Linked DNA regions of Homo sapiens. The protein of the gene in region 1 purifies or fractionates together with the protein of each later gene. This does not show direct contact. Each region holds a gene or a part of one and is shown in the gene's direction. Other genes may lie near its edges. The genes, in order: CMTR1 and DHX15.

The links.
Region 2: the proteins of CMTR1 (region 1) and DHX15 purify together in Homo sapiens (co-immunoprecipitation; 3 studies listed by BioGRID and IntAct, with this or other methods). This does not show direct contact.

What each region holds. Positions count from the first base shown.
Region 1 is NC_000006.12:37,426,650-37,438,523, forward strand, and holds the start of CMTR1 (cap-specific mRNA (nucleoside-2'-O-)-methyltransferase 1), read left to right. Parts: upstream 1-6,571; 5' UTR 6,572-6,728; intron 6,729-8,974; 5' UTR 8,975-8,980; coding exon 8,981-9,113; intron 9,114-11,874. UniProt on the Homo sapiens protein: S-adenosyl-L-methionine-dependent methyltransferase that mediates mRNA cap1 2'-O-ribose methylation to the 5'-cap structure of mRNAs.
Region 2 is NC_000004.12:24,550,404-24,562,274, reverse strand, and holds part of DHX15 (ATP-dependent RNA helicase DHX15), read left to right. Parts: intron 1-5,864; coding exon 5,865-6,024; intron 6,025-7,331; coding exon 7,332-7,550; intron 7,551-11,871.

The sequences.
Region 1 (11,874 bases):
CAGCTTCCCAAGTAGCTGGGATTACAAGCATGCACCACCACACGTGGCCAATTTTCCTCAGATCTTTTTTAAAACTTTCCCTGGGCAGGCTCAGTCACTTTCTAATTTGCTCCATATACGTAGTCATTTTTTAATGTCCTAGTCTTTAATGTCTGGCTCCCAAAAGGAGAAAAAGCAAAAATGAAAGGAGGGAATAAAAAGGTCACCAGCCCTTTAAATCTCCAGGAGTCACTTCAACCAGAGGGCAAGAGGCTTGAAACAAATGGGGAAAGTTGCAACAAAAATGGCTTTCCCTGCTTTGTTTATACCTCTGTGATAAGAAGCGGGAATGAGAGATCAGGGCATGGATCCCCCATAATCAGAGGACAAAGTCCTCTTTGCCTACCCTGGCTCCCACAAGCTGTTTGTAAGCTGCTGCAGGAACATGTGCACCGCTGTCTGCCATATGGCTGAGTGGTGGTGGATGAGTAACTGCTGCTGTGCTAAGAGCTGAAATGAACTAAAATTAACCACAATTTACCATCCTTGCCTTCTTCTGGATGTTGCAGCCCTTATTAGACTCCGGAGTCCCATAATAGTTACATCAGACGGATTCCGCCAGCACAATTTTTGTCTAGGTGAGAAGCCATATTCCCGGTGCTTCCTACTCTGCCATCTTCCCAGAATCCTCTCCACCCAATTTTGACAATTTTGCTAGTATTCTCATTATTTTTATGGAAGATTATATTTCAGAGGTCCTTACTTCACCTTTCCAAAAAGGACAATTCCAGCATAACTTTCACAGTGTATTTAGAATTAATATTTTACCACTTTCAGTGGACTGTAGAAAGCTTCCTGCCTTATAGATCCCTTCACCCTTCCCCATTTATGTAGTAGTTATCATATGTGTTACATTTACACACACTGGCAACTTTATCAGACAATGTTATATGTTTTGCTTTTAATCATCAGGTATATTTGTAAGAGCTTAAAAGGAGAAAAATAGCCTATTATATATCTACCTAGCTATTTACCACTTTTATTGCTTTTCCTTCATTCCTGACATTTCCAGTTTTACTCTGCTATCATTTCTTTTCAGGCTGAATAACTTCCTTTAGGCTTTATTTTACAAAGTGTGGCTGGTGATGAATTCTCTTAGTTTTTCTTCATCTGAGAATCTCTTTAGTTTGCTTTCATTCTTGAAGGATATTTCTACTGGATATAGAATTCCACGTTGACTGTTCTTTTCTTTCTGGACTTGAAATGTTTCGTGTCACTACTTTTTTGGCCTCCATGGTTTCTGATGTAAGATCCATAGTCATTCTAATTGTTTTTCCCCTAAATGTGATACATAGTTTTGTCAACCTAAGCAACAGAGACAGAGAGAGAGAGAGAGAGAGAGAGAGAGAGAGAGAGAGAGAGAGAGAGAGAGAAACTCTCTAAAAAAGACGCTGTGTTTATTCAGGAATAAGCATTGCAATGGGAGTACAGCTGCCACAGTAAATAATGTGTGTATTCAGACAGGTAAAGGAAGACCAAAAATTTTTTAGGAAAAATGAGGAGGATTACATAAATGTTTTGAGACAATTATCCTTCACTACAAGGATCCTTAATAACAAGGGTGGTGTCATTGCAAGTTTGGACAGGCAGTTAGGCAGATGGTCCTTGCAGAAGTATGTTGTGTTGTTGTTGTTAGGTTGTGACGACTTTTGTGGAAGATTGTGATTTTTGCAGAGCCTTTTGTGATAGTTGTTGTTATCAGGCATTTATGCATGAGAACCCTCCCTTCGTGGGTTCCCTGGCTCTGTTTGTCAGAGTTTTGTTTTTTTGTTTTGTTTTGTTTTTTTGAGATGGAGTCTCACTCTGTCACCCAGACTGGAGTGCAGTGGTGTGATCTCTGCTTACTCCAACCTCCACCTCCCGGATTCAAGCGATTCTCCTGCCTCAGCCTCCTGAGTAGCTGGGATTACAGATGTGTGCCACTGCGCCTGGCTAATTTTTGTATTTTTAGTAGAGACGGCGTTTCACCATGTTGGCCAGGCATGTCTTGAGCTCCCAACCTCAGGTAATCCACCTGCCTTGGCCTCCCAAAGTGCTGGGATTACAGGCATGAGCCACTGTGCCTGGCCTGTCAGAGTTTTAAACATGAGTGACTCCATTTTGATTTTGACAACTTTCTCTGGCTGTTTTTAACATAGTTTATTTGGCTTTAGTTTCCAGCAGTTTGGTTATGATGCATTTGGAAGTGGATTTCTTTGGGCATTTACTGTTTGGGAAATTCTGAGCTTTTTGAGTCTGTAAATTCATGCCTTTTGCCATTGTTTGGAAGTGTTTAACCATTATTTCTTCAAATATTTTTTAGCGCCAAATATTTTTTTCTACCTCCTTTTCTTTGTAGGGACTCTGATGACATAAGTATTGGATCGTCTGGTATTGTTCCCTGGGTCCCTGAGGCTGTATTCACTTTTTTTTCCCATTTGTTTTTCACGTTTGATACTTTTCATTGATCTATCTTCAAGTTTAGTGGCTTCCTCCACCCCCATCATCATCATTCTGCTATTGAACCTATCTAGTGAAATTTTTGTTTTTGTTACTGTACTTTTTAATTCTAAAATTTCCATTCGGTTCTTTCTGCAGAGACTCACTATCTTTCTATTCATTTTTTAAGAGTCTTACTCCTGTGTTTTAGGTTATGGTTATAATGGCTATTCTTTAAATTATGGTAAAAAACACAACATAAAATTTACCATCTTAACCATTTTTAAGTGTTGTTGAAAGAAAAACTTTACATAAATAAAGTTTAGCAGAGATTATTTGAGAAAAGAATCAATTCATGAATTGGGAAGCCTCCCAAACCAGTAAAGTTTCAGAGAGCTTTACCTACCAATGGAGGCATGCAGTATTTATAGATAGAAAAAGGAAGTGACATACAAAAATAATCTGATTGGTTACAGTTTGGCATTTGCCTTATTTGGACATGTTTTGGCAGTTTGCATCCCCATGACTGACTGAAAGTTTACCTGCTATGATTAGCCCAGACTCAGATACTTGTTACAAGAATATACTCTCGGGAGGCCAAGGCAGGTGGATCACGAAGTCAGGAGTTCAAGACCAGCCTGGCCAATATGGTAAAACCCAGTCTCTACTAAAAATACATAAATTAGCCAGGCGTGGTGGCATGTGCCTATAGTCCCAGCTACTTGGGAGGCTGAGGCAGGAGAATTGCTTGAACCCGGGAGGTGGAGGTTGCAGTGAGCTGAGATTGTGCCACTGCACTCCAGCCTGGATGACAGATCAAGACTCTGTCTCAAAAAATAATAAAAAAAAAAAAAGAATATACTCTCAAGTTAGGTTACAGTTTGTTTACATATTATTAGATTATGTTATGTATGGAGGCAGATTTAAGCCAAATGTAATTTAACAGTGTACAGTTCAGCAGTGTTAACTATATTCGCATTGTTGTGCAAAATATGTGCATTTTCGGTTGCCTTTTAGTACAAGTTGGGAGAAAACGAAGGGGAAAAAAATTGGGAAACTCACTCTTGATTTGACAGTTCTTTGACTTCTGGTTTCCTTTCTCCATATTCCTGCCATTTACTTTATACTTTACCATTTACTTTTCAGAATCCTCAGATAGTTGTTCCATGCATTCTGTCTAAGGTTTTAAATTACATTCAGTGGGAGAAACAGAATGAAATGTGCTGTTTCCATTTTGACAGGAATTGGAAATTTCTGTTTTTCTTTTTATTCTTGGGTATTTTATATATATATGTGTGTGTGTGTATATATATATATAAGAGATAAGTCATTTGTCAGATATATGTATTGTGAATCTTTTCCTCTCATTCTGTGGTTTGATTATTCAATGTCTTAATGGTGTCTTTTGTTGAGTAGAAGCCTTTTATTTTGATGAACTCCATTTTATCATTATTTTTCTTTCGATTAATGCTCCCTGGGTCCCATGTAAAAAAAAATCTTTGTCTACCCTAAGTCTGCAAAAATATTTTCCTGTGTTTTCTGTTAAAAGCTTTATCATTTTAGATTTTATGCTTAGGTCTATGATGTATCTTAATTTGCATTTGGCATAAAGTAAGAATCAAAGTGGGCCGAGCACGTTGGCTCACGCCTGTAATCCCAGTCCTTTGGGAGGCTGAGGTGGGCGGATCACGAGGTCAGGAGATCAAGACCATCCTGGCTAACACGGTGAAACCCCATCTCTATTAAAAATACAAAAAATTAGCCGGGCGTGGTGGCGGGCGCCTGTAGTCCCAGCTACTCGGCAGGCTGAGGCAGGAGAATGGCGTGAACCTGGAGGTGGTGCTTGCAGTGAGCGGAGATTGTGCCACTGCACTCCAGCCTGGGTGACAGAGCAAGACTCCGTCTCAAAAAAAAAAAAAAAAAAAAAAAGATTCAAAGTTCGTGTTTCCCTATATATTTATCTGTTTTTTCCAGCACTATTCATTGGGTATACTCATATACATTAAAAAATAAAATTTAACTTTAACTTGACTATATTTTGAATGCATTCTCTCATTATTTAATGCTTTACATAAAAATTAAATCATTAAATTTGCTAAATATGTTAACTTTTTCAATATAACTCATTTCCTATACCTTATTTTATACCCTTCAAATTATTATTTTGAGAATGGGTCCATAAGCTCTACAAGATTACCAAAAGTGTTCATGTCATAATGCATGCTAAGAAGCCTCAGTGAGGTGGAAAGAAGGACACTAAACTTTAGAACATAGAGAACTAGGTAAATACCTGTTTGCTGCTTCCTAGCTCTGTAATCTTGAACATATCACTCAACCTTCATTCATATTCCACACTTCCACAGATTCAGTAAATATCTATTGAGCACTGACCACCAGCCTCTGTTAAATCTTGTGAATTTAATACAGACAGACAATCTTTCCTGTACAGAGTTTACAGCTGAGTCGGGGAGGCAGATGAGTCCACAGGCCATTATACAACACCGTGGTAAGTGCTTTGATAGTGGAAGGACAGAGTGCTTTAGGAGCTCAGAGGTGGGTCTCCCAACCTAGATTTGTGACATCAGGAAATATTTCGAGATAGGGACACTAAAGTGACTCCTGAGGGATAAATGGACATTAGCCCAGCAAAGAGGAGAAGCATGATCCAGGCAGGGGGCTGAACTCTTAAGAGACATGGCATGTTTTGTTTTGTTGTGTTCTGTTTTTGAGATGGAGTCTGGCTCTGTCGCCCAGGCTGGAGTGCAGTGGTGCAATCTCTGCTCACTGCAACCTCTGCTTCCCAGGTTCAAGCGATTTTCCTGACTTACCCTACTGAGTAGCTGGGACTATAGGTGCGCACCACCACACCCAGCTACTTTTTTTGTATCTTCAGTAGAGACGGGATTTCACCATGTTGGCCAGGCTGGTCTCGAACTCCTGACCTCAGGTGATCCATCCGCCTCAGCCTCCCCACGTGCTGGGATTACAGGTGTGAGCCACCGCGCCCGGCGGAGACACGGCATATTTGATAAACTGAGAAGAGTCAGCATGGGGAGAACTAAGGGATAGCAGTACAAGGCATACCTGAAGAAGGGGTCATGCTGGAGGGTCTCAGAGGCCATTTTAAGGACATTAGCTTTATTCTAAGAGCAATGGGACATCATTGATGGATTTTAATCATTGTTGGGTTGTGACAGGATCAGGTTTAATTAATCAATTTTAAATTCCCTTCTTTTCACAGGTGTTGAAAATTATAAAAATCACTTTGGTTTTGTGAAGAACGCATTAGAGGGATCACAACTGGAGACAGTCACGGGAGTTTGGAGTTACTGGAGAAATTCTGCCGAGAGGGGGTAAGTGCATGAATTGTGGCAATGGGGATGGGGGTGAATGGATGGATTTGAAAGACAATTAGGAGGTAAGCGCAATTAAGTGTATGAGAAACTTTGGGGTATGAAGAAGAGGGAGATTCCTCAGATTTCTAGCTGGACCAACAGGATGGATGGCAGCGCCCTTCACCAGGAAAAAAGTGAGCTGATGGAAGAACATAAGGTGAAATTTGAATTCATGGGGTTTGAGGTGACTGAGTGAGGATGTCCAACAGACGTTTGGCCATATTGGCCTGAAAATCAGAAGAGAGGTTTGAGATGGAGAGCCAACTGTGCCCATATGGTAAGATGCTACAGGCGGCATTCCTTCTGTCCTCCCGTCCTTCGTTCAAAATCTGTTGAGATGTCCCATAGGCTGGATGTTGGGGATACAGCAGGGAACAAGAACACTGCGTTCGCTCAACCAGTTTACCATCTACCTCTCTGAACTTGTTCTTAGTCTGTAAAATGAAGATAATGATAAGATTAAGTAAGATGAGGTCGTGTGAGGGCACCTAGCACTTACAATTTTTGTATTGGTTTCTCTTCCTCAGAGCCAAAGGAGGAGATAGTTACTTTTGCTTTTGCAGCCTTTTCCGGGCGGCTTTTCCGCGCAGGCGCCCCTGGACCTCCCAGGTTGAGAGGTGGAGCGGGCCAAACCTCAGCTGCCTTTCCCGGGGCCGGGACCCGGCCGGGGGAGGACCGAGGCGCGGCGCTGTCCGTGACGTCATCAGGCTGCGCTGCCCGCAGTACTGGACCCGAGCGCGACGGTGCGGCTGGCGGACCCGGGCTGGCTTGTGGGGAAACGAAACTGAGGGAGGAGGCGGCGGCTCTGGCAGCGGCGGCGACAGTGTCGGCCTGACCCCCCCTCCGCTCCCCGGCAGCTCGCTCTCTCCCCTCAGCGTGAGTGCCGACGCGCGGCCCGGGGGGAGCAAGCGGGCGGGCGCGCGGGCTCAGCATCCTTCTCCCCTCCACCGCCGCCTGGGCCCCCCGCCCGCGGTTATGGGTCTCCTCGCCTTCTGGCCCCTTATGTCTTCCCTCCTCCTCCCACCCCCAACGCCGGCTCCCTGGAGCCCGAGCTGCCGCTGACACACGTCTCTGCGCACACATTCACACGCTCATGTTATCTTCAAATGAAGGGACTGGCCGGGAGACATGGGAGCTTATCTCTTCTCTCTGTGATTAGGGGTGGCAGTGCCAAACCGAGGCCCAGGGAGAGAAGACTGCAGAGGGGATTTGAACCCCTTCTGTGCGGAAGCAGCAGGTAGAACCAGGCCGCTTGCCTTCCGCTTAGAAGTTCCCTGCCAGAGCATTCTGCTGGCATGTGTGGGTCACTTGAGCAGGGCACTGGTTAGCTGTGTGGCCTTCACCTCTGTGGCCGCAGTCTTTTCCCGTGGAAGATGATAGGGTTGGATGAGATGATTTGGAAGGCCCAAATCTAAGGTGATGTGGTTTGGGGAGGAGCATCCGCCTCTCCTGCCTTTCACACAGCTGTTCAACAGTCCGCTTTGAGTTTGCTGTACTTCCAGTCTCCCCCCGAGTCACTTAAGAATTAAAAGCTTTTAGCGCTTGCAATGGCTAGAAGCAAGCTCTGTGATGAGCCTTCCTTTATCTCACCCTGGGGGCCTTTTGGGGGTATTTAAGACTACGGCTTAAAGTGAAATGTGGCTTAGCTTGGTCTTGCTTTCTGTTTGCTCAGTGTCTCCGGTTCTTCCCTGGGACAGCCCCTGCCTGTATCTAGTAAGAGGCTGCTTTCTCAGGAAGGTGGCGGTTGTGCATTGGGTTGATTGGCTCTTCCTTGAGTTGGAGAGAACTGAAACATGTGATCCAGGGTTTTACGAGGTTGGGAGCATCAGTGACACTTTTGGGTTTCAATACTTTCTTGCTGTACCTCGCCTTCCCTAAGGATTGTTTCCCAGCTTGTCGCCCACCCTGTATTGAGTCCTCTTTTCTGAGTTCTCTACAGCCAATCAGTTGTGTGTAAGCCACACTGTATTCACTACTTCTCTTGCTTGCTCTTTAACTTGATAATTCGTTAAGATTTCAGGGTTTCATAATCACTTCATTCCATCTTATTTTTTTCTCGTGCTTATCTCTCATGTACCTAACCATGGGGATGGATGATTGATGGTGGCATGGTGCCTGTTTCTTTCTTTTTTGTTTTTTTGAGACGGAGTCTTGCTCTGTCGCCCAGGGTGGAGTGCAGTGGTGTGATCTCGGCTCACTGCAACCTCCGCCTCAGCAATTCAAGCGGTTCTCCTGAGTAGCTGGGACTACAGGCATGTGCCACCACCCGGCTAATTTTTGTGTTTTTTTTACTAGAGATGGGGTTTCACCATGTTGGCCAGGCTGGTCTTGAACTCCTGACCTCAGGTGATCCGCCCACCTCTTTCTCCCAAAGTGCTGGGATTACAGGCGTGAGCCACCGCGCCCAGCTGGTTTCCACTCTTTTTTGTGGAGGTGGATTTCTGTCCTTAAAATTGTTGTTTTCGTAACTGAGTTCTGTGGTATAGCTACCTCCAGTCCCAATAACTTTCCCGCTCTTGTGTTTCCTCGGTCTTAAGTCATTTCACTGCTTCCATTCCCTACTCTGCTTAAAAACTTTCCCAATTCTTTCATGTTTTCAAACATTATGAAGTAAACCAAAACCAGTATTTTTATGATATTATGTAATTTCTTAATTGTTTTGGTAAAATAATGCTGATGAAACAGTCATTCTGGGATGGTCCCTTCACCTTGGGAATATTGGTTAATATTTATTCGGTTTTATAGTTCATTTTCAGTGTACATTGTCATGCATGGCCAATATTGCATCAAAAGTGTAGAATAACTACAGGTACCAAGGCTTTATCCCCCAGTGGCTTGTGGAGTTGATCCATGACTTTCTGTTATCTGACACCAGTGGCCCAGGGCTCTCTCAGTCTGTGAGCACCACATTTTCCAGTAAAACAGCTATTATTGAAAACCAACACTTGTCTAGCATCCTTCCTAGACCTCATTCTGAGGAAGAGGCTATTCAAGTGCTGGCACTGGAAGATGTGTAGAATTGCCAAATCTCATCCCATTGATGATTTACACTTTGGAATCCCTGCTGTGATCCCAGTGGCTGTGACCCAAGGGCAGCTGACTGACTGGATTTATGGTTACAGTTAACGATGAAGAGGAGAACTGACCCAGAATGCACTGCCCCCATCAAGAAACAGAAAAAAAGAGTTGCAGAGCTTGCCCTGAGCCTCAGCTCCACGTCCGATGATGAACCTCCCTCCTCTGTCAGTCATGGAGCAAAAGGTACGTGTGCTTGTGTGGTCTGAGGCCACTGGCCATCTGGTTATTTGAACACACAGTGTCTAATCTAGGTGGAGCAGACTATAGTCCACTGCCCCTTGGTCCCTTGAGGAAAATTAGGAATACTCTACAGAGAGATGTTGGCTATAGACTCTTTTCCCTTCTGCCATTCTCCTACTAAGAGTGGGGAAACTTGTTTTAAATAAAAAATGGTAATTTTTCCAGAAGTTGCTTTCTGTTGGTTGTCCTTCAGTAGGTGGCACTCTTGCTGCCTTAAACCAGTTAGAAGTAGTGGTGAGCATTGAGTGCTGTGTGCCCTTAATAGCTGTTAATTATCCTGGGGCTCTTTTGTAAGGGAGGGCCTCTTTGCTGCGGCCGTCGAGCCTAATTTTCACTTTTTTTGCATGCATACCGTTTTCTCAATTCCTTCAGCGGTTGTGGTCAGAAGTATCCAACTACTGGAGCATTGCTGCGTTCACTGTTTGCATTAAGCGTCGAAGATTTCACTAATCTGGTTGAAACTAGCATTTTGCTTTGCCTGTCTTTTAGGGTTATTCACAGTTTCCATAGATGCTTTCTGAGGAATGGTAAAATGTCTGGGAGCTTGCCTCAAATACCTCAAGGTAAATTTGCATTTACCTTGACTTGCCAGCTGTATTAGTTTCTTAGGGCTACTGTAACAAATTACTACAAACTGGGTGACCCAAAACAACAGACATTTATTCTCTCACAGCTCTGGAGGCTAGTAGTCCAAAATCAAAGTGTTGGTGGGGCCATGTTCCCTCAAAGGCTCTTGGGAAGACCTTCCTTACCACTTCTAGCTTCTGCTGGCTGCTAGCATTCCTTGGTGTTCCTTGGCTTGTGGTAGCATAACTCCAATCTCTGCCTCTACCTTTCCTCTGTGTGTGTCTGTATCCAAATTTCCCTCTTCTTATAAGGACATCGGTCATTGGATAGGGCCCACTGTAATCTAGTATTACATTTGATGTAATCTGGAAAGACCCTATTTCCAAATTAGGTCACATTTACAGGCTTTGGGGAGGATACCATATTCAACCCAGCACACCAGCAGGCTTGCATATTGGATCCTCTGTTGGATCACTGGGAAACTGGAATGAAATTTCATAACAGATTGGTGACTGAAAGGGTGTGAAGCACCCTTTGAAGGTAGTAGGAAATACAGTTTATTCACAAGTGATAAGCTTATTGAAGGGCAGTTACTCATCAGCTGCTACTGAGAAGCTGGTCCAGAGAGAAGCTTGACAGGTGGTACAGCGAATGGAGCATCGGTGTCGCTGTAGTCCAGGCTAGATAAGAGAGTCAGTTGCAGCTTTGTATGTGGAGGTGTTCACGCCTTTAAAGCAAGCTTGTCCAACCTGTGGCCCAGGATTGCTTTGAATGGGACCCAACATAAATTTGTAAACTTTCTTAAAACATTATGAGATTTTTGGGGGATTTTTTTTTTTTTTTTAAAGCTCATCAGCTGGCCAGGCGCGGTGGCTCACAGTTGTAATCCCGGCACTTTGGGAGGCTAAGGTGGGCGGATCACGAGGTCAGGAGATCGAGACCATCCTGGCTAACACAGTGAAACCCCATCTCTACTAAAAAACAGAAAAAAGTAGCCGGGCGTGGTGGCAGGCGCCTGTACTCCCAGCTACTCGGGAGGCTGAGGCAGGAGAATGGCGTGAACCCGGGAGGCAGAGCTTGCAGTGAGCCGAGATTGTGCCACTGCACTACACGGAGCAAGAGTCCGTCTCAAAAAAAAAAAAAAAAAGCTCATCAGCTGTTGTTAGTGTATTTTATGTGTGGCCCAAGACAATTCTTCCAGTGTGGCCCAAGGACGCCAAAAGATTGGACACCTCTGCTTCAAAGTCACAGTAGATTCCAGGGTAGGTAGGAATTGAAGTTCCTGAGTAAGAAGGCAAAAACTTACTGCACGCGATGGTTCTGGAGATTCTTGAGGAAAGGGAATTTTACCTCTCACCTGGAATTTGAGCAGCTTGGTGAAGATAGAATCTCCTTGGGTAGGGGTATTGGGAGAGATGGCTTGTAAGGGAAAAAGAGAGAGTATGTCTGGGGAACAAGTGATATCTGGTTCTAAGTGGATCTTGGGGGACATTTGCTCTCAAGTAACATCTCTTTGAAGTAAGGAAAGGACAAGTCCCAGGTAAAAGAAGGTAAGTGTATAAGGGTAAGGATCCTTCAAGGAAACCGTTCTGATTTAAATTTCAAGCTTTTGTGACTGAATTGAGATTACTCTTCCCCCTTCTCTGGAAGTGGTACTATATGACTCAGTCAGGATTGACTATTGCTGTTGTGTGTGTAGAATGGAAATCCAGGCTGGGCATGGCGGCTTATGCCTGTAATTCTAATACTTTCGGAGGTCAAGGTGGGCGGATTGCTTGAGCCCAGGAGTTTGAGACCAGCCTGGGGAACATGGTGAAAACCCACCTCTGCAAAAAATACAGATATTAGCTGGGCATGGTGGCATGCACCTGTAGACCCAGCTACTCGGGAGACTGAGGTGGGAGGATCACTTGAGCCTAGGAGGTAGAGGTTGCACTGAGCCAAGATTATGCCACTGCACTCCAGCCTGGGCATCAGAACAAGACCCTATCTCAAAAAGAAAAAAAAAAGAATGGAAATCCAGAGGTGTCCAGTTCCTTGTATGTGTCTGGCAAGAGGCCACTTCGTCCTTTCATTTGCAGAAAATGAGATGGGAGGCAGAGGCAAACCAACATTTCTAGATTTCCCTAGGTTAATT
Region 2 (11,871 bases), on another chromosome or scaffold:
TATAATAGATGCCTTTTTCAGGTTGCTTTATTTATGCTTTTTTAACTTTTAGGTTCAAGGGTATATGTGCAGGTTTGCTGTATAGGTAAATTGCATGTTGTAGGAGTTTGGTGTACAGATTTTTTTTTTTTTTTTTTTTTTTTGAGACAGTGTCTCACTCTTCCAGGCTGGAGTGCAGTGACCCAATCTCAGCTCGCTGCAGCCTGTGCCTCCTGGGTTCAAGCGATTCGATTCTCTTGCCTCAGCCTCCCAAGTAGCTGGGGCTACAGGTGCACGCCACCACGCCTGGTGAATTTTTGTATTTTTTGGTAGAGATGGGATTTCCACATGTTGGCCAGGCTGGTCTTGAACTTTGACCTCAAGTGATTGACCTGCTTCGGCCTCCCAAAGTGCTGGGATTACGGGCTGGTGTACAGATTACTTTGTTACTCGGGTAATAAGCATAGTTACCTGACAGGTAGTTTTTCTGATTCTCTTTCTCTTCCCACCCTCCATCCTCTGGTTTGTTGTTCCTTTCTTTGTGTGCATATTTACTCAAAGTTGAGCTCCCAACTGAGAACATGAGGTATTTGGTTTTCTGTTCTTGTGTTAGTTTGCTTAGGATGATGGCCTTTAGCTTCATATATGTTGTCACAAGAACATGATCTCTTTTTTATGGCTGCATAGTATTCCATTGTGTATATGTGCTACTTTTAAAAATGAATTCTACTTTTAATGGACATTTAAGTTGATTCTATGTCTTTGCTATTGTGGATAGTACTGCAGTGAATATACACAGGCCTGTGTCATTATGGTAGAAGGGTTTATATTCTGTATACCCAATAATGGGATTGCTGGGTCAACTGGTAATTCTATTATAAATCTTTGAGAAGTTGCCAAACTGCTTTCCACAATGGCTGAACTAATACAATCCCACCAGCAGTGGATAAGCATTCCCTTTTCTCTACAACCTTGTTATTTTTTGACTTTTTAGTAGCCATGCTGACTGGTATAAGATGGTATCTCATTGTGGTTTTAAGTTGCTTTATTTTTAATGGCTGCATAGCATTTGTGATTGTACCTTAGTTTACTTAACAAATTCTATTGATGGAACCTCATTTGCAGTTTTTGCTATTAGAAACATTTGCTGTCCTCCGTATCCTCTTACAAACTTGTACACACATTTTTTTCACGCATACACATCTGTGAAATAAATTCCCTACAAGTGAAATTGTTCGGGTCATAGAGTATACTTGAATTTTATCAGCTTTTGGCAGATTGCCCTCCATAGAGATTTTTATATACTCTCACCAGTAAGGAATCAGTAAATGAGCATCTGTTTCTTTACCCTTGCCAACTCAGCATTATAAAACTTTTTATCTTTGTCAATCTTGTTAAGTGAAAAATGGGATTACTTTATGGTTTTAATTTGCATTTATTTTCTGTGAAATTGAACATTTTTGTATATTAGCCATTTGTATTTCTTTTTGGAATCTGAGACTGGTGCTTTTTTCATCTTCTCAGGATTTCTACCTAGTTGATAGCTGTTTTTAAGGTGCTATTTTAAAATGCATCTTAGTTTCAGAGAATTTAAATTTGACCAAATATGCGGTATTATAAAATTGATAGAATTAGATGTTTCATCATATGCTTTGCCCATATTTCTATAGTGGATTGGCCTTTTTCTTATAGATTTGTAGGAGCTTATAACAGAATTAGCACCTTGGATATAAGTTGCAATTTTTGCTCAGTTTGTCATACATTTCTTTGCTTTATGACACTTCATGCTACATAGAGACTTGAATTTTGTACACGTATTGAATTAACCACTTTTATGATGTCCAGGTTTTGCATCATACCCTGCCCAGTGTTGGTTTAAATAATTTAATCCATGTATTTTACTATTTTGTTTTTGTTTTAAACATTTAACCAAGCTGGAATTTTACTGGGGAGGGATCATAAGCTTTGAGGTAGGGATTTCTGGTTTTCATTTTATAAAAATGATTTTTTGCCTTTCTTAGGCTTAGTTTGTAATTTTTTGGAATGTTTCATAAAATATATATACATATATATAAATACAAAAATATAAATAAGTAATATATTTGCAGGATGTAATGTTTTACCATGGTTTGTTCAAATCAGAATTAGTGATGTGTTAGGTGTCGTCATCTTGCTGAGATCATAGTTGGCAGTTGGCTTGTAGTTATACTACGCCATCTACATGTGCCTGTTGCAAAAAAATACTTAAGCTAGGTTGATACTGTTCAGTACATGGGGTTTTTGGTATATTTTATTAAGCAGTCACAGTTGAAAAGCTGAACTGTTACTTACTCCAAGGATGTTTTTGCTACTTTAGACATCTTTAGGTAATCTGCTTCTTGTTTAATTTGATTAATTTAGACTAGTGTTTCTTAAACTTTAGCAATCATCAGAATCACTTGAAAACTTGTTAGAGCAGATTGCTATGCCTCACCTTCAAAATTTCTGATTAAGTAGATCTGAGATGAGACTCAAGTTTTGTAGTTCTTACTAGTTCCAAGGTGATGCTAATAAATTTTTAAGAGCATCTCTGCCCTAAAACAGTTGGAAAACACTGTAGATAGTAAGGCACCCAGTAAAGTGTGGAGTTTGGCTATCCTGTGGCACTTTTATTAATTCATCATTGAAACTTCAAACTTAAAATTTTACTATTGTGACTCATTCCTTAGCCTGGATAAATATTTCATTACTACTAAGAAAGTTAGTAAAACTTGACTCTTACATAAAGGAAAATGGACTGTAGTTTTTATCTCCAGTGCCTGATTCTGCCTTTCCTGAGTTCTGTGTCAAGTTAGTTTTTTGTTGTTAAGCAAAGGGTTTCATACATTTAACAGTATAGCAAATCGTCAAGTACTGTTTCTTTTTTTTTTTTTTTTTTTTTAGTGGCTTAAAATTGACAAATTCATTCTCTCACAATTCTGAAGGTCAGAAGTTCAAAAACAGTATGTTGGCAGGTTAGTTCCAACTGGAGGCTCTAAGTGGCAATAGTCTTTCATGATTCTCTCCTAGCTTTTGGTGGTGGCTAACAGTCCTTAGCATTCCTTGGCTTGTAGCTTTGTAACCACAGTCTCTGCCTTCATCTTCACGTGGCTTTCCTTTTGTGTTCAAATCTCCCTCTCTTTACATTTTGTAAGGATACTGGTCATTGGATTTAGGGCCCACTCTTAAATTCAGGGCGATCTTGTCTGAAATTTATAACTTAATTACTTCTGCAAAGACCCTATTTCTGAGTAATGTCACGTTGATAGGTACCAGAGGTTAGGACCTGGGCATATCTTTCGAATAGCTTTTTGCTATGAAATTTGTACGTACAATGGGTTCCTTTATCTGGGACTTTGTGAAGAGTGTGTTAATGTAGGAGAGACTTAGGACTGGGAATCAGTACAGTGATACCTAGTCTTAGTAACTGGTTTTGAGAGTCTGGAAAAGTTGACTACGGTTTTTTTCGTTTTCTTCACTGGAAAAGAAGTAAATTTGACTATATCCTTGAGACCTTTGAAATTTTGAAATTTCATTTTTCTTGAAATTATTCATTGTACAAACAGCAGTATCCCATATTAACTGGTGATGCAAGAAGTAATTAAGTGCAGCACCTCATGGAATGGGATCACTGGGTGATGATCAGTATTGAGGAACCATTGGGAATTGTCTGGATGATAGAAGTTTTGGCCATTTAACTAAGTACTTGCAATATGCATAGTTAATAAAGCACAATAAAATATTTCCATTAATCTAATTTATAATATTTATAGTCTGCCATCTGTAACATTTCTTCCCTTAGAAAAATAAAAAGGAATGTCTGTTGGTTAGCTCTGCTCCATATTGTGATTGATTAAAGCTTGAGGAATGTGAGGAGAAAAAAGATCAAAATAAAGAAGGTGACTTTTAAAACTAGTTTTAAGAAGTTTTCAACTTAAAGTCATATTTTATCATTTCTGTGACTTTTTTCTCAAGTTTTTATTGTCTGAAGTTACAATGTGTCTCACAATCTACTGAGGTCTTGTAGTTGGTGGCAGTTTGGTTATTATTGCCTGTGAATGCTTGAACTCGATCTAGCTGTACATATTTTCACCTCAAATAATGTGAATTGTTGGGTCTGTATATACTGAGAGTATTTGCTAATTTAAATGCCTTCAGAAATATTAAATATTACACTATGATTCCATGTTGAAATGAGCACTGAGTATCAAGAGGCTGGGAAATGGAGCAATAGGGTGTAAATATGCTAGTATTTGAGCAAATGTTGGAAGAGTAACCAATCCTTTTTTTTTTTTTTTGCCTTGCAAATCAACAGACCGCTCTATTGAAGCTAAGAGAGGTAACTCACAAATAGAGGAAGCTGTATGTTATGTTCTGCTACTGAGATCATGTACAAGAGTATTGCCTCTCTCGTGTCTGTGATATATCGGAAGACAGGAAAAATTACCAAACGTCCTCAGATCAAAGAAATTTCAAAGCAGCTAAGGGCTATAGTGTTGCTGATTCTTGCACTATGCTTTACTGTCTTTAAGGCACTGAGTCATAATTTAATTGGCAGTGTTTTTTCTTTCCTGGTCTTACATAAAATAACCTTATAGCTAATGCTGTTTGTCCCTCCCAGGAATGTGGTAGTTTATTTTTAAAAATATGACCAAGGACAAGAAGCATAAAGCATATAAATGAGTTAAGATGGATTTGTTTGCCAATAGTTTATGAAATTTAGAATTAAGTTTAGGTGAAATAAAGAGAATTCACTTCTTTTTGTTGTACACTATCAATTTGCTGAACTTAATGCTCCAGCAGATGGCATGAGCTAAAAATATCCAGTTGGTCCATGAAAGATTAGGTTAGACTAATCATAAAAAGAGCCAAAATGGTGAATTCATAAATGATGGCTTCAGATTTTTTAATACCACTTTTAAATCCGTAAATAAAATAATGGGTTTTTATCTAACTGGATGAGCTGTGACTTAAGCATCTAAAGGCATCCTGTGTTTTGTCCAGGTGCCAAAAGGAAGATAGTTGTTTTTCATAGTGACATCAGTAACCAGTGTGGAATGGACAGGAGATAGCTGACCCCTGCAAAGTTATACAATCTTGACCCTTGATCTCATTGCCTTCATTCTTACGTGGCGCCTGTCTTGTGATAACTGGAGTCCATATTAGCAGCCTTCACTTGAGCCATCCCTAACTAAGCCTGGTTTCCCTTTTTGGTTCATTGATCAATCTGACGTCATTTGTTTTTATCTTCCATTTATGTATCAGCATTTGTTTAGTGTTGATGCTGCCCCTCAGTCCCACTTCTTTTATTATTGAATTCCTTTTGTGCTTTAAGATTATTTCTTTGGGGTGGGAGGACTCACGCTTTCAGCCCTTTTGAACCAAGAGCCTGTTGTTAGCTTATTAAGTAAGGAATTGTTAAGGCTTAACAAAAAATGTTTATTTGCATGTGGTAACATTTTAGTGGTGTGACATGAAGCAACTTAAAATGGTTTATTAGATTTTGCGTGTTGAATATTTGTATGTTTTTAAAAGGTTTAAGAAATTGAAAATGACGAATTTTGCCTTGGCATTCATGTGAAACCATGTGATCATTATGTTCCATAATTGGTCATATCATGTCTTCCCAGTACATTTCAGTATTACATTTTTCAAGAATTGATGAAGCATATCTTGTTTCATTGTATACTCTTAAAAGATTTTCTTGAAACTTAATTTTGCAATTGATCATGAAACAGTAGCACATTTGTTTGGGGCAGAAGTTTATTTTTAATTTACCTTATGTCTTTGCATTTCATTTTTGTCACGAAGTTTGGTTTTAAAATGACCTAACGGAACCTTTAACCAACATGTTCTTTGGAATATAGGTATATGACTGATGGGATGTTACTTCGTGAAGCTATGAATGATCCCCTCCTGGAGCGTTATGGTGTAATAATTCTTGATGAGGCTCATGAGAGGACACTGGCTACAGATATTCTAATGGGTGTTCTGAAGGAAGTTGTAAGACAGAGATCAGATTTAAAGGTGAAGTAATTTCTTCTCTCCATTTAACTATATATGTGTGTATGTGGGCATAAAAATGGGGAATACATACTGATCAATAACCAACTGTAAGAAATCACCTGTAAAAGAAGGAACTAGTAAGTACCTTCTTGTTTTGTTTCTGCTTTGCTGTGCTTTCATTTTAGACTTTATTTCTCCCCCTTTATAGTAATGCATTTTTAAGCCCAATCTTCTCAATTTGTAACCCACCTAGTTCTTTTATAATCTAATAACATATATGTGTAACTGTGCTACTCACTGTACCCTTCATTAAGTACAGAGGCTTATTTTACTTAAGGATCAAATCTTTCTCCCTCAGATCCATGTCCTTGTCTCATCACAAACACCCATTGTAACTTATAATGCTGGAGAGTGGAAATAACTATACACAGGACAGGCAGCTCCTTAGAAATGTAGTCACTTACCCTCGTGTATTACTTCTTTCCTCCATACCACATGTACCTTGGCCCCTGTTACTGTATTGATTAAGGGCCTAAAACTATTTTCTGACATTTTTGTCCCCCAAAGTCTATGATGTTCCCCTTTTTGCTGTGTTGTGTGTGTATACTATTCATTGGAATGTAGACTCATCCCTTGTTGATACAAGTGTTATAGAAGGGTTCATAGCCTGGTGACAGAGTGAGACTCTTAGCAGAAACAAACAAACAAACAAGGGTTCAACACTGGCAAGAAAGATTCTGGGTCTTTAGAAAAAAAACTGAGGCCTGAGCATGTTTTTGTTTATACAAATTAGATCAATGCTTTAAAAAATATATTTAAAGAATAATGTGAGTACTATCATTATTTATTAAATTTATTGTGCTACCAAGGTTTTAGTGAGAACCTGAAAGTAGAAATTAAGAACTCTTATGAAACTTTTTATGGAGGAACCTTTTTATATCTGGTCCACTTATTTTTTTTTTTTGCATTTTCTGTTTTTTCCTATTTGCAAAGTTTTGTTTTAATAATGGTAGCAATAATTATACTGCATATTAATGTTTTCTTTTAGCAATCTGAATTACATATAATTTTATAAAATCTGATTTTAAGGTATTTTATGAAGAAATGCTGTAGTTTGTGCATTTATTTTTTTTCTAAATTTTTAAAAATGTAAATAACTTTTACTATAGTTCAGCCATTATGTATTTGATTTTTCATTTACAGTTTATTTGAAGGTTTTCATGGGCATTTTTATAGCTGATATATGTAGAATAGTAAATATTGCTATACTGTAAGACCATGTAAGAATCCTTGAAGACAGCTTCAAATAATTTACTGTTTTCTTTCAGGTTATAGTTATGAGCGCTACTCTAGATGCAGGAAAATTCCAGATTTACTTTGATAACTGTCCTCTCCTAACTATTCCTGGGCGTACACATCCTGTTGAGATCTTCTATACTCCAGAACCAGAGAGAGATTATCTTGAAGCAGCAATTCGAACAGTTATCCAGATTCATATGTGTGAAGAGGAAGAGGGAGATCTTCTTCTTTTCTTAACTGGTCAAGAGGTATTGTTTTAATTTTCTTCATTATTTAGCTTTTGACATACTGTTTCTAATATGCAGCAACCTTAATCATAAGAACATGTTAATCATATTTTTTATTTCAATGTTCTTCAACCTGATTGTATTAATATGTAAAATATATAACCCCTTTTATCTGCATACTGTAGGAATACTTCTGTATACCACTAGAGTTTGTGTTATAATTATTTTAAGAGTGTTAAATGCTTTTGGAATTTCAAGATTTTGCAATTGTAGTTTAAGAGATCCCTGGGATATAAGTGCTATTATGCTGAAGCATGAATGTGCATCACAGCTGCTTTGAAATCAGGTTATCTTCATCAGTATTTAGCTTGTGAGTGAACTTGGGTGCCTATTCATCATCAAAACACTTCAGTTTGGTTTTGTCTTCCCATATGCTCATGAAATTTGGGAAGGATTACTAAAAGTTCTTAGTTAGAATTTACTTCATTTAAAATTTTATTCTCAGATGTAGCATTTCTTTTTTTTTTCGAGACGGAGTCTTGCGCTGTCGCCCAGGCTGTAGTGCAGTGGTGCAGTCTTGGCTCACCGCAAGCTCCGCCTTCTGGGTTCACGCCATTCTCCTGCCTCAGCCTCCCAAGTAGCTGGGACTACAGGTGCCCGCCACCACACCCGGCTAATTTTTTGTATTTTTAGTAGAGACAGGGTTTCACCGTTTTAGCCAGGATGGTCTCAATCTCCTGACCTCGTGATCCACTCTCCTCGGCCTCCCAAAGTGCTGGGATTACAGGCGTGAGCCATCGCACCCGGCCAGATGTAGCGTTTCTAAGCTTCTTTTCAATAGGGTGTTTATAGGTGTGCTGTGGAATACCTGAGTGGCTAAATAAATTCAGAAGCTATTTGGATAATACAAAGTTTTAAAAAGCCTTTTACGAAAGGGTTTTTCTTTTTCTTTTTGGGGGTGGGGAGGGAAGACAGAGTCGCGCTCTGTCAACCAGGCTGGAGCGCAGTGGCATGATTATCGGCTCACTGCAACCTCTGCCTCCCGGGTTCAAGCGATTCTCTTGCCTCAGCCTCCCAAGTAGCTGGGATCACAGGTGCCCACCATCACACCTGGCTAATTTTTTTTTAATTTTTAGTAGAGACGGGGTTTCACTATGTTGGCCAGGCTAGTCTCGAACTCCTGACCTCAGGTGATCTGCCCTTCTCGGGTTCCCAAAGTGCTGGGATTATAGGCGCGAGCCACCACACCTGGCCCCAAAATGCTTTTTTGATGGCATATAAACAGCATTTGTGCTGTAATGTAGTATTGAGGCTGTTGGGATAATCGTTTTGTCCTCTTGTGTCTGGTCTCTAGTTTCTCATTTCCTCCAAAGTGCATAGTATATTTTTATTTTTATTTATTTTGTTTTATTATTTATTTATTTGAGATGGAGTTTTGCTCTTGTTGCCCAGGCTGGAGTGCAGTGGCGCGATCTCGGCTCACCGCAACCTCTGCCTCCCAGGTTCAGGTGATTCTCCTGCCTCAGCCTTCCGAGTAGCTGGGATTACAGGCATGCGCCACCATGCCCAACTAATTGGTATTTTTGGTAGAGATGGGGTTTCTCCGTGTTGGTCAGGCTGGTCTTGAACTCCCAACTTCAGGTGATCCACCCGCCTCGGCCTCCCAAAGTGCTGGGATTACAGGCGTGAGCCACTGCACCTGGCCATATTTTTATTTTTTAAATCACTATTTAAAATTGTCATCATTCTCAGATAACATAAGCGTATTGAGATTCTATCAGAAATATCAAATGGCCTCATGGTTAAGGACCCGAAAGGTTTTTCTCTGAGACAACTTTGTGCGGTATTTTCTGTGAATCCCACAGCTGGGGAAAGGAAGGGAGTAAGCCGAAGGGTTTTCAGATGTATGCTAGAGTGTCTTTCATGAAATAAAATGCTGCTCTAGTTGTCAGCTGTTTTTTTGCATACCATTGCTTCTTTAAGTTATCTTTAGATTCCCAGTCTTGAATTTGAAGAGTTTTGGGGAGAAGGTAGCAGAAAACCTAACGTTTTGTTTACATTTCATTTGTTGTATTTAGTAGTAGAGCTGGTCTAAAGTAAATATTACCTTCTCATTTTTGTGAACCTTCATTATTTTTACTTGGTAAGTTAAATGCAACTGCGAAATCAGTACTCCTTTCTTCATAAATTTGAATAGCCTCCATGAAATTGAGTAATCTCATAAAAATTTAAAACTGGTTTTTAAGAACATATTCTGACCACTAAATAAAAGTGCTTCTGTAGTCACATGAGTTAATTTGGGAGGGAGAGAGAACAGTTTAAAGTGTTGCCTAGATAGTAATTAGATAAGAGTGATTGTAATTAAATAATTTTATTTTTAATTTTGCTTAGTAAATTTTTTTTTCAACATGCAGTGAGTTAATTGGTAAGGTCCAGATTAATTTACTAACATATTGCTGCTTTTGGAGTTAAAAATCTTTTCTCAAATCAAAAACTCCTGAACTGTCTGTCTTTATTCTCAGTATTGCTAATGACTAAGCAGATGGCTGCTGTTGAAACTTCTTTTCCTCCACTACCTGTTTCTGTTTATATTCTGATGAATGCAGATAAGTTTTGTGGCATTCTCAGCTGATAGTGTTGACTTCTTGGAAGTTTGGCAAACCTCAGGGAAAATTTTTATTGCAAGTTTTAAAGCTGTTTAGGACTTTATCTAAAAACTTAAGTGTTACGGGATTTCTTCCACATTTTAGAGATGCCTTTATATCCTACATAGTCATCATTTTGTTTTAGCTCCTTGCATACTTAGCAGATTGGGTAGTCTAATCTCCAGTAAAGTTGGAATTGTCATTTTAAAATACTGGAATCACAAAGCAAATGTCTAATTTAAGCACTTAATTTTTAATGTGTGAAATCTGGATATTTTGTGATTTCTGAGCATTTATTTTTCATTTATGTACAGTAAAATTAACAAAATTGCAGATACTCTTAAATGTTGGAATCCTAGTTTTATATTATGTTCAAATGTTTTTTAAGTTGGAGAGCTCTTAATTTTTTATTTGCATGCCAGCAGGGGGCATTCTAATCTAGATACAACATTTGAAAGCAGTATTTTCAAAAAATATTTGTTCGCTTTGTTATATTTTTTATTTAGATGAATAGCATCTACTTTCATTTTCTTTTAGAAACTTGAGATTTCAAAGGAGGATCTAGTAACATTGAATCTTTAATAGTTTTCTGTGTCACAATTTTTGAGACAGATAACCTTTAAAAAAAACTGATGTGTTTGAAATAAGTGAAAAGTAATTTATTTGTTCTTACTGTGTTTAAGAACGTTGTGTTTTTTGATATAGAGACACAGTTGGACATTAAAAAAATATAAAGTAAATGTCCTAAAATTCTTCCTCACCGTTTAGTATCATTGTCCTTTGAAAAAAACACGCACTTTGTTGACAAGGGTAGCTTCTGATTGGGTCATTTATTGGACAGGCTGCCTAGTGTATAATAAGCGTTTTACATACTTCTGGGTTTAATTGAATTAATACTTCAATAAAATTTAGAATACATTTGTCCGCAGTGCTGCCTTCCATTTTTAAGTTCCTTTGCCTCTCCCAGAGCTATCATACATAATCTGTCTCTCTCTTTTTTTCCGTCTTGATATTCATTATGTCTCCTCTTGAATGCACATGTGTTAGAATATAGTCATGTGCCACATAACAACGTTTTGGTCAAGACAAACTTCTCAGATAGCTGTGGTGCTGCTCCCGTAAGATTATAGTGGAGCTGAACGTAACCTTGCAGCATCACAGCACAACACATTACTCACTGCTTTGTGATGATGCTAGTTCAAACAAACCTACTTTGCTGCCAGTTGTTTTAAAAGTACTATATAGTATGTACAATTATGTCCAGTACATAATAATAATGATAATAGGACATTGTTAGTGGTTTTTGTATTTACTATACTACATGTTTTATCATTATTTTAGAGTGTTCTCCTTCGACTTAAAAATGTTAACTGTAAAACAGGCTTAGGCAGGTCCTTCAGGAGGTGTTCTAGGAGAAGGCATTGTTATCACAGGAGATGACAGCTCCATGTGTGTTACTGGCCTTTGGAGACCTTCCAGTGGGTTAATACGTTAAGGTGGAAGATAGTGATATTGATGATCCTGACCCTGTGGGGGCCTAGGTTAAGTGTGTGTTTGTGTCTTTTAACCAAAAAGTTTAATAAGTTGAAAAAGTAAAAAATTTTAAATTGGAATGAAGCTTATAGAATAAGGATATAAAGAGAAAATACTTTTGCACAGCCATACGGTGTGTTTGTGTTTTAAGCTAAGTGTTACTA